Linked DNA regions of Homo sapiens: region 2 is linked to region 1. The links come from fine-mapping of genetic effects on gene expression. A gene starts in region 1. The other region holds a variant in brackets. All regions are shown on one strand. Distances are between the middles of the regions.

Evidence for each region. PIP is the estimated chance that this variant, and not a neighbour inherited with it, causes the effect.
Region 2: its variant is the best candidate, but not a certain one, in a credible set for the expression of PDC-AS1 in tibial nerve (GTEx, PIP 0.58).

Annotation. Positions count from the first base shown.
Region 1 is chr1:186,432,922-186,437,333 of GRCh38, reverse strand. It overlaps PDC-AS1 (PDC antisense RNA 1), which reads right to left and starts at 2,173. Exons shown (of 5, transcript NR_126002.1): 1 at 2,045-2,173; 2 at 761-976. It also overlaps a transcript of ODR4 not described here.
Region 2 is chr1:186,359,129-186,363,540 of GRCh38, reverse strand. It overlaps TPR (translocated promoter region, nuclear basket protein), which reads left to right. Exons shown (of 51, transcript NM_003292.3): 5 at 96-199; 6 at 540-704; 7 at 1,161-1,253; 8 at 1,672-1,752; 9 at 1,832-1,919; 10 at 2,636-2,776; 11 at 3,177-3,268; 12 at 3,545-3,742. Among named protein-coding and RNA genes, the nearest start is that of TPR, 14 kb to the left of the region's middle. The variant A/G (reference allele first, on the strand shown) is at 2,030.

The DNA.
Region 1 (4,412 bases):
AAAAAGCTGCCCAACAGGAGCTTTTGCTTTTGGAAGAGAAACACTGCCCCTGTCACTCTGTGGCCCAGGAGGGACAGAGCTTCAGGGAAAAACAACTTGCACTCTCTCCTCGTGCTCTTCTATCTCTTTTCAGAACCTTTCATTGTCAGAATCCAGCTGAAAGCCAGAGGACAAGAGAACCCTGTTGATGAAGTCTGTTAAGTCAACCTTCTCTAGGGATAAAACAGGATGGAGAAAGATAGAACGTGAATTTTAAGAAGCAAATGGAGAATATCCAATACACCACCTAACCACCAAGCCTGTTAGACTCAACAGTCCTCATCTTACTTAACTTTCGGCTACATTGAATGCTGATTACCAATCCCAAATTGAAATTCTTTCCTCACTTTGGTTTTCATAATACCACTCTACAGATTCTTCTCTGCTTCTGTGACCGGGGGCATGCATGCTCCTTGTCTATTGGTGTTTTTCTGGATTAGTCTCCTCCCTCACACTTCAGATGCTGTTATTCCCTCTGACGACTTCAGGTACCATCTACACCGAGGCTTCTGAAAATCACCACTGTTTACATTTTGGACCAGATAATTATTTGCTGTGGGGAGTTGTCTTGTGCATTATAGTATGTTTAGCAGCATTCCTGGCCTCTAACCAGTAGATACTATTAGCATCCCTCCCTCAGTTGCAACAACTAAAACTATCCTCAGACATTGCCGACTGTCCTCTGGAAGGTAAAAATCATCCCCAGGAAAGAACTGCTTACCTCTACATACAGAATATGTATCTTCTGTCCTGAGTTCCAGGCTGATGGAAACTTAATTACCATCATCTGTCTCCTGGACAATTGCAATCATTTCCTAAGTGGGCTCCACAACTCCCAGTTTTCATGCTCACATCAGACTGATCCAAAAAAGACTGTGAATGTGTGAGGGAATCCCAAGGCTGTCAAGCCATGCAGCTGAAAATATTCTTAAAACATCTACGAGACACATGAAAAGAAGTGGAATTGTAAGAGTTTTTGACTTACACTCTGAAACATTTGGGGATGTAGATGCTCTTCTTGATGACCTATGACTTGTGGGAGTGAAGTAGCTCTGTACAGAAATATTGTACCTCCCATTACAGGAAAAGATATTCTTTCAGAAGAAAGTAAACTCAACAGCAGCATTTCTCTAGTCAATTTTCAAAAGTTTGGTCTCTAACTGGAAGTTTAAAACGTGAAAAGAGTATAATGACTAAAATGGTACGAACATATATTTAGATAAAAATATGCAGGCTCTATGACAAAACAGTTATCTTTTACAACAATTGGATTTGAAAAAATTACACACACAATACACACACACACACACATATATTATATACACAAACAATAATCATTTTAACTTGACTTTTCAAGATAGGTGCTACTGCAGTAACTCCTGTGCTTTTAATAACAAAAATTTGAAAAATCATTTAAGAACAAATACATTTGTCATAGGTAGTTGTTTATATGCCTTGCTATGAAAATAAAGTACCTCATGAATAAGTTAGATATTGCATTCCTGAAACATATATAAAAGTCAAATACTATGTATGTTCATAATTACTAAAGAATTGATGTAAAGACAGTATAATCCATGCTGTGGAATAGCTTTGTTGCACCAAAGATAGCCAACATTTTTATGATGTGTTATGTTACATAATTATTTCACATACATTATCTCACTGGAAGAACTACGAGACACAATTGCTCTATGAGGTAGGTAGAACAATGTTTTCAATATGTCCTCCTCAAGGATGACAAAATTGAAGTGTTTGTGGTTAGCTGACTAGTCCAGGTTATGCAACCAGGAAGATATAGAGGTTGAATTTAACCTTGGGCCTCCCATCCCTGGTTCCTGTGCTTTTCATATCACAGCATACTTCATACTGGCAATCATCAATGCAAAGAATGCATTAACAAAAAAATTCAGGATTATCTAAGATTAGAAGATCTACCTTAATATATTTCAGGCCCATATATCGATTCTGCAGGAAAAAAACAAAAACAAAAGAACAAAGTTACCTGGAATCCAGAGAAAGCTTCGGTTAAGTTCCACAACTCTAACAACTAATACAGTGGGTAGGACTCTGGCAGAGAGAACAAAGCAAAGTATAAGGTAATCTCAGTTTTCAATTATGGATATTCATTATTTGGGCAATAGCATTTAAGGAAAACATTTAATTTTATCTTTACTTGAGGCTCTCACCTATAACAGCTGTCAAAGTCTGTTCATCTTTCAGGGATTTTTTTACATAGTATAAAAGAAAATGCTCCTAAAAATTAGTTTTTCATAAAATAAGGTGTTTCACCCTAGGTTATTTTATTTCTTAGAGCGTTCACTCCCTGCTTCCAATAATTGAACACAGACTAGCTTGAATTAAACATGCTATATCAAAAACATTAATTCATTTTTAAAGGTTTACATATATTCATTGCTAACAACATACAATTATTTCCCCTACAGGGTTCCTGTTATAACAAATCAGATGCACTTTCAATAGGCAATAATAATCACACATGAAATTGAACTTTCCGGGTAACTTGAATTACAGAGACTTACATAATAAACTGTGTAAGTCCCACAGAAGTTTAGAAGAATAAGGCCATGGCTCTACATTACATTTATCTTTTATTAAAAATAAATAAAGATGTCATTTTTGCCAATCATTGTATCTCCAATTTATTTTTTCCCTTCTTCAAGCATTTCCAGAGAATGAGGATTTTTAATTTTCTTTTTTGTTGCTTTTGTTTTGGTAGGGAAATGGAAAGGACTTTTAAACCTCCATTTGGCTTTCTCTGAAGGAGCAGCAAGGAGTTTCTATTTGAAACCAGAGTTATTTTACCATTCTTTCCAGTTCCAGAGTAAGAATTTAAAGAGGCAATCATTCCAAACATAATAATAGTAACAAAAACCATAAATGATTTCAATTTAACAGTTATGAGGTATATATTGTCTAATTAGACATTTTTTAAACCCAGGTATTGGCTATTCAAAAGAGATACATTCAAAACATAAGGATACAGAAAAGCAAGATGTAAAATGATGGAAAAACTATATCTAGCAAATACAATTCTTTAAGCAAGTATCAATTAATATCAGACAAATACATTTAAAGAGAAAAAGCATTATTAGATATAGAAATATATCTTATATACATAATATTACTTACATTATTACATAACTATAAAATGGTACAGTACCACTAGGATGATCTAAAAATTTTAAACATATATATGGCTAATAAAATGTCACAGAATATACATAGTAAAAACTGACAGACTACAGGAAAAAAGTGGCAATCCACCATCAGAAATTTCAGTGCAGTTCTTTGAACCTTTGCTAGATCGCGTAACAAAAAATTAGTATCTATGTAGATATTAACCACAGAATTAACAAGTTTGATCTAAAGGACATATTAAAAACACTGCAACTGGCCAGGCGCGGTGGCTCATGCCTATAATCCCAGCACTTTGGGAGGCCGAGGTGGGTGGATCACCTGAGGTCAGGAGTTCAAGACCAGCCTGGCAACATGGCGAAACCCGTCTCTACTGAAAATACAAAAATTAGCCAGGTGTGGTGGCAGGCACCTGTAATCCCAGCTACTTGGAAGGCTGAGGCAAGAGAATCGCTTGAACCCAAGTGGCAGAGGTTGCAGTGAGCTGAGATCACACCAGTGCACTCCAGTCTGCGCCACAGAGTGAGACTCTGTCTCAAAATAATAATAATAAAATAATAAAAATAAAGCATTGTAACTAATAATTAGTAAAGTAGCCACTTTTCCACCTCCAACACACAAGGAACATTTTCAAAAGTTAATAATGAACTAGTATACTGTAAGACAAATTACTCTTTAGGACCACAATGCAATTAAGTAGAAATTAATTACAAATATGTATTTGCTATTAATAATAAATACACATACATCTAAATAACTTCTGTGTTCAAGGAATAAATTATACTGGAAATCTGAAATTCTTAAAACTTAAAAAAAAATAAGAGTATTTTATATCAAAACTTTGGAACATCAAGAAAATATTACTATTAAAAACATAAATTACAAAAGAAGACTTAAAACAAATGGCCTGAGTTTCCAACTAAGTTAAGAAAATAAAGCAAACCCACAAAGTACAAACATAAGGAAATAAGTACATGCATAAATTAATATAAATTTTATAGATAGAATTCACATGCCAAAAATTGGTTCTCTAATAAGATTTTTAAATATCTGGCCGGGTGCGGTAGCTCACACCTGTAATCCCAGCACTTTGGGAGGCTGAGGCGGATGGATCTTGAGGTCAGGAGTTCGAGACCAGCCTGACCAACATGGTGAAACCCCATCTCTACTAAAAATACAAAAATTAGCCTGGTGTGTTGCCATGCGCCTGTAGT
Region 2 (4,412 bases), 74 kb after region 1:
TATTAAAGGTTTATATTCCTAGAAATATATTTTTGATATTTGGTTCCCCTGAGTGTTAATTAGTTATTATTTTTTAATTCTCTTCACCATTCTAGAGGATGTTAAACGTCTGAATGAAAAACTTAAAGAAAGCAATACAACAAAGGGTGAACTTCAGTTAAAATTGGATGAACTTCAAGCTTCTGATGTTTCTGTTAAGGCAAGTACCAGATGATTCCTAATGCATAAACTATAGCTTTTTATTAAAACTCACCTAAATTAAATTTCAAATATAGGCAATAAAGTAATTAAAAGCTGCATTTTGTTTTGTTTTTAATGTCAGAAAATTAAGCATTAGGACAATTCTAGTTCATCTGTTTTGCTTGTTTGAAATTTAAGTTTGTTACAGTTCTTAATGTTTTCTAGTTAAGAATCTATGCAAATACTTAATTTCTGTTTTGAAATAAAATTCTGCTTGTGTCCCTTAGCTACAGACAAAATCTTTTGAATAATCATATATCATCTTTAACTGTACGTGTTATTTTCTTGGATTTCTTTAGTATCGAGAAAAACGCTTGGAGCAAGAAAAGGAATTGCTACATAGTCAGAATACATGGCTGAATACAGAGTTGAAAACCAAAACTGATGAACTTCTGGCTCTTGGAAGAGAAAAAGGGAATGAGATTCTAGAGCTTAAATGTAATCTTGAAAATAAAAAAGAAGAGGTAAGTTAGTAAAATTGTGTTTTTCTTCATGTTGAGTATAACTTACATTTGTATGTCAGTTTATTAAATATGTATTCAGTAGTGTGTACCTGATTAGTTGTAAGATGAGTGGTTAAATGTGAATAATGCATTACATTTGGCGTAAAAAATCAACCAATTGCGTTTACATAAAGAATTTAAGATTCTTTGTCAAATCTGGTTAGTATCTACTGTCTTACGATATATCTTTCCTAAAATATGTGTTTGTTTAAGAAGTGGTGGTAAGTTTTTGTGAGCTAAATCTAAACATTGTTCTGTGAGCAGTTACTCTTAGTTTTCTTAAATATGCATATTTTAATTGCTTTTTCAGGTGGGGAGGGGGAGTTACTTAGCTTTTCCTTAGCAGCATAAACCTCATGTCAGAGTAATTTCAGTTAATATGACATCCTTTCCCCCTGCTCTATTTTTTGTTTTTAGGTTTCTAGACTGGAAGAACAAATGAATGGCTTAAAAACATCAAATGAACATCTTCAAAAGCATGTGGAGGATCTGTTGACCAAATTAAAAGAGGTATATATGACCATTAAAATGTCTTTTTTACAAAATACTAAAGCACTTACGAAGCTGTTATTTCACAAAATGATGTCATTTTTTAATCTGTCCTTGGCCCCATAAAACAGTGAGAGTCCTCCTTCCATATGCTGTAGCTAGGCTAAAATAGAATCAGAAATAGCAATTATATGTTATATTGAAAATACTATCTAAAAAATGAGTATGGGTTAATTTTATTGTTTAATTATTTTACTTTGAATTTAAAATATTAGTAATATTTTATCCTTAATTTATCTTTGTCATGAAGACTGATTTGAATTTGAGTGTTTTAGATTTAGCTCTTACTTTACAAAAATGGAATTTTTCATCTTGTCATTTGATAAGCATTCTAAATTTAGTTCAAAGTAGACTGCTATAATTGGGCTATTTTTTTCAGGCCAAGGAACAACAGGCCAGTATGGAAGAGAAATTCCACAATGAATTAAATGCCCACATAAAACTTTCTAATTTGTACAAGGTAAATATCCCACCACACATGTTAGTATCTAAATGTTGCATTGTTGACTGTTAGGTAACTTTTTAAGATTAACTTTTAGAGTGCCGCTGATGACTCAGAAGCAAAGAGCAATGAACTAACCCGGGCAGTAGAGGAACTACACAAACTTTTGAAAGAAGCTGGTGAAGGTAAGTGTTTTCAGTTATGGGAACATTATTTTTGTTATTGTACTCTTTTTTTTTTTTTACCCTTGTTTTGTATAGATGATTGGATTTAGGTGTTAGACTTTATTTGGGAC[A/G]GAATTAGGTACAGAAGAAAGAACTTTGGATTAGGAAATTCAGAATTATATCTTAAGCAAATGTAAGTTTATATATTTTTGAAAATACAGACAGCAGGGGGTTTTGTTTGTTTTTTATCTAATAATCTTGTATAATTTGCTGATTTCTAATGAGAAAGTTTTCTTTTTTGAAACATTTACTCTGATAATGTTTGAATACTCTTACTTTATAAATAAGACATCCTCTTTATTTGCATTTTGTAAAGTCTTTTATTTCCTCAAATTTTTGCTTTTTTCAATGTATTATATTTATGGTCTTTTCCAATAATTTCCTTTACTTAGGATTAAAGATCAAAATCGAAATCAAAGATATACCTAGAACCACTTTTTACCCTTTGGGTTTCCTTATTTTCTTTGTGGGTAAGAGACATCAAAAGGAGAAACACCAGGCGAAGACAATTCCAAAATTATAAGTAGAGCAAGAACTTTCAATAGATACTGTCAGCTGAAGCCTCTCTAGAAATTTAATATTATCTGCTGAGGGGAGAAGTGACTGATCTGTTGCATTTTGTAAACTAAAATTTTAACTGTATGTTTGAATATTTGGTCTTTAAAATTGTTTTTTAGCCAACAAAGCAATACAAGATCATCTTCTAGAGGTGGAGCAATCCAAAGATCAAATGGAAAAAGAAATGCTTGAGAAAATAGGGAGATTGGAGAAGGAATTAGAGAATGCAAATGACCTTCTTTCTGCCACAAAACGTAAAGGTATGGCTAATAGATGCTTGTTAGTGAGTTGAAATACTACAGCTTTCCTACATAAAAGTCATTTAATTTCACTAATAGTATTTATCTGTCATGCTGTGATGTAGGAAACTCCATCGAGTTATATTAATAGAATTTGTTTTAAAATTAATACTCTTACCTGTATCTTTACAGAATCGGGCATATAAATACCATTTGATCACACACAGTCTTGTAAATTCCCAGGTTATTGCATGATTTTTTAGAATTAGATGTGTTACATGACTTTTTGATGTCATGTATTTAAAATTTTTATAGGAATTACTATATAATGTACAGTACATGTCACTTACCTTGAAAAATTATTAATGGCTTTTAGTTTGGAATTTTACAAATTATACTAGATGTGTATTTGTTGGCACAGGAGCCATATTGTCTGAAGAAGAGCTTGCCGCCATGTCTCCTACTGCAGCAGCTGTAGCTAAGATAGTGAAACCTGGGATGAAACTAACTGAGGTAAGAATGGTATTAAATGTTGTTAAATTCTTTTTCTTCAGCAAATGTATACAAATCTCTTCAAAATTTAATTCTCCCAAAACTTATTTTTAAAATCATCTTATAATTAGTGGATCATTCTAGGAAAGGCTTTCTTTGGTTCCTAGTGCTGTGTAACTAACATAGTAAACATTGCCATTTTGTGTTAGTGTTAAAGAATGTTTATTATGAAACTAGATCAACTAAATATTTGCGTTGTTATGGTTAGATTTGAAACAACCCTTTGTCTACTTTCAGCTCTATAATGCTTATGTGGAAACTCAGGATCAGTTGCTTTTGGAGAAACTAGAGAACAAAAGAATTAATAAGTACCTAGATGAAATAGTGAAAGAAGTGGAAGCCAAAGCACCAATTTTGAAACGCCAGCGTGAGGAATATGAACGTGCACAGAAAGCTGTAGCAAGTTTATCTGTTAAGCTTGAACAAGCTATGAAGGTTGGTTCCATTCCTAAAATTTAGCCGTGGTAACAATACAAATGAGAAATGATTTACTAGGTATTTTTTTTTCTTAAGGTGATTGAGTCAGAAAAATCTAAATACGATTTTCAATAAACACATTTTGAAACTTATTAAACACTGCTGATCTCAAAACGTCATACCTTTATTTAGCAATTTTTATGTATTTCAATTTTTATATAAAATTGTGAAAGCATTTTAACCTTTTTTTAATGCATTTACTATGTTTTCCTTAGGATTCTCAACTAGAGAATAATAGCCAAATCTCCTAAAACTGCTCTTCAAATTAAAATAATCTCTGTGTAATAAAACTCTCCTATTTGCCATAATCATTCTTTATCAGACAGTTGTAATAGCCTGCCTAGAAATAATAATATTGTTTGACCATAGGTAGAACTCCTTTTTTATACCATTTCACAATTTGGCGTGTCTCTATATGCATTATTTTGTTATTGCTCATTTGCTTATTAGAAGTGTTAATGAAATTCATAAAGATTTTTTCCTTTTAAGAGATACTGATGGAAAAAGAGGTTATACTCTGAATGTTTTGCCTTATGGTACAACTATTAACATTACTGAGGGAAATTGTCAAGATTTCTTGAACAAGTTTTATGGAGGAAATTCAGTTAAATGAATTTATATCTACTCT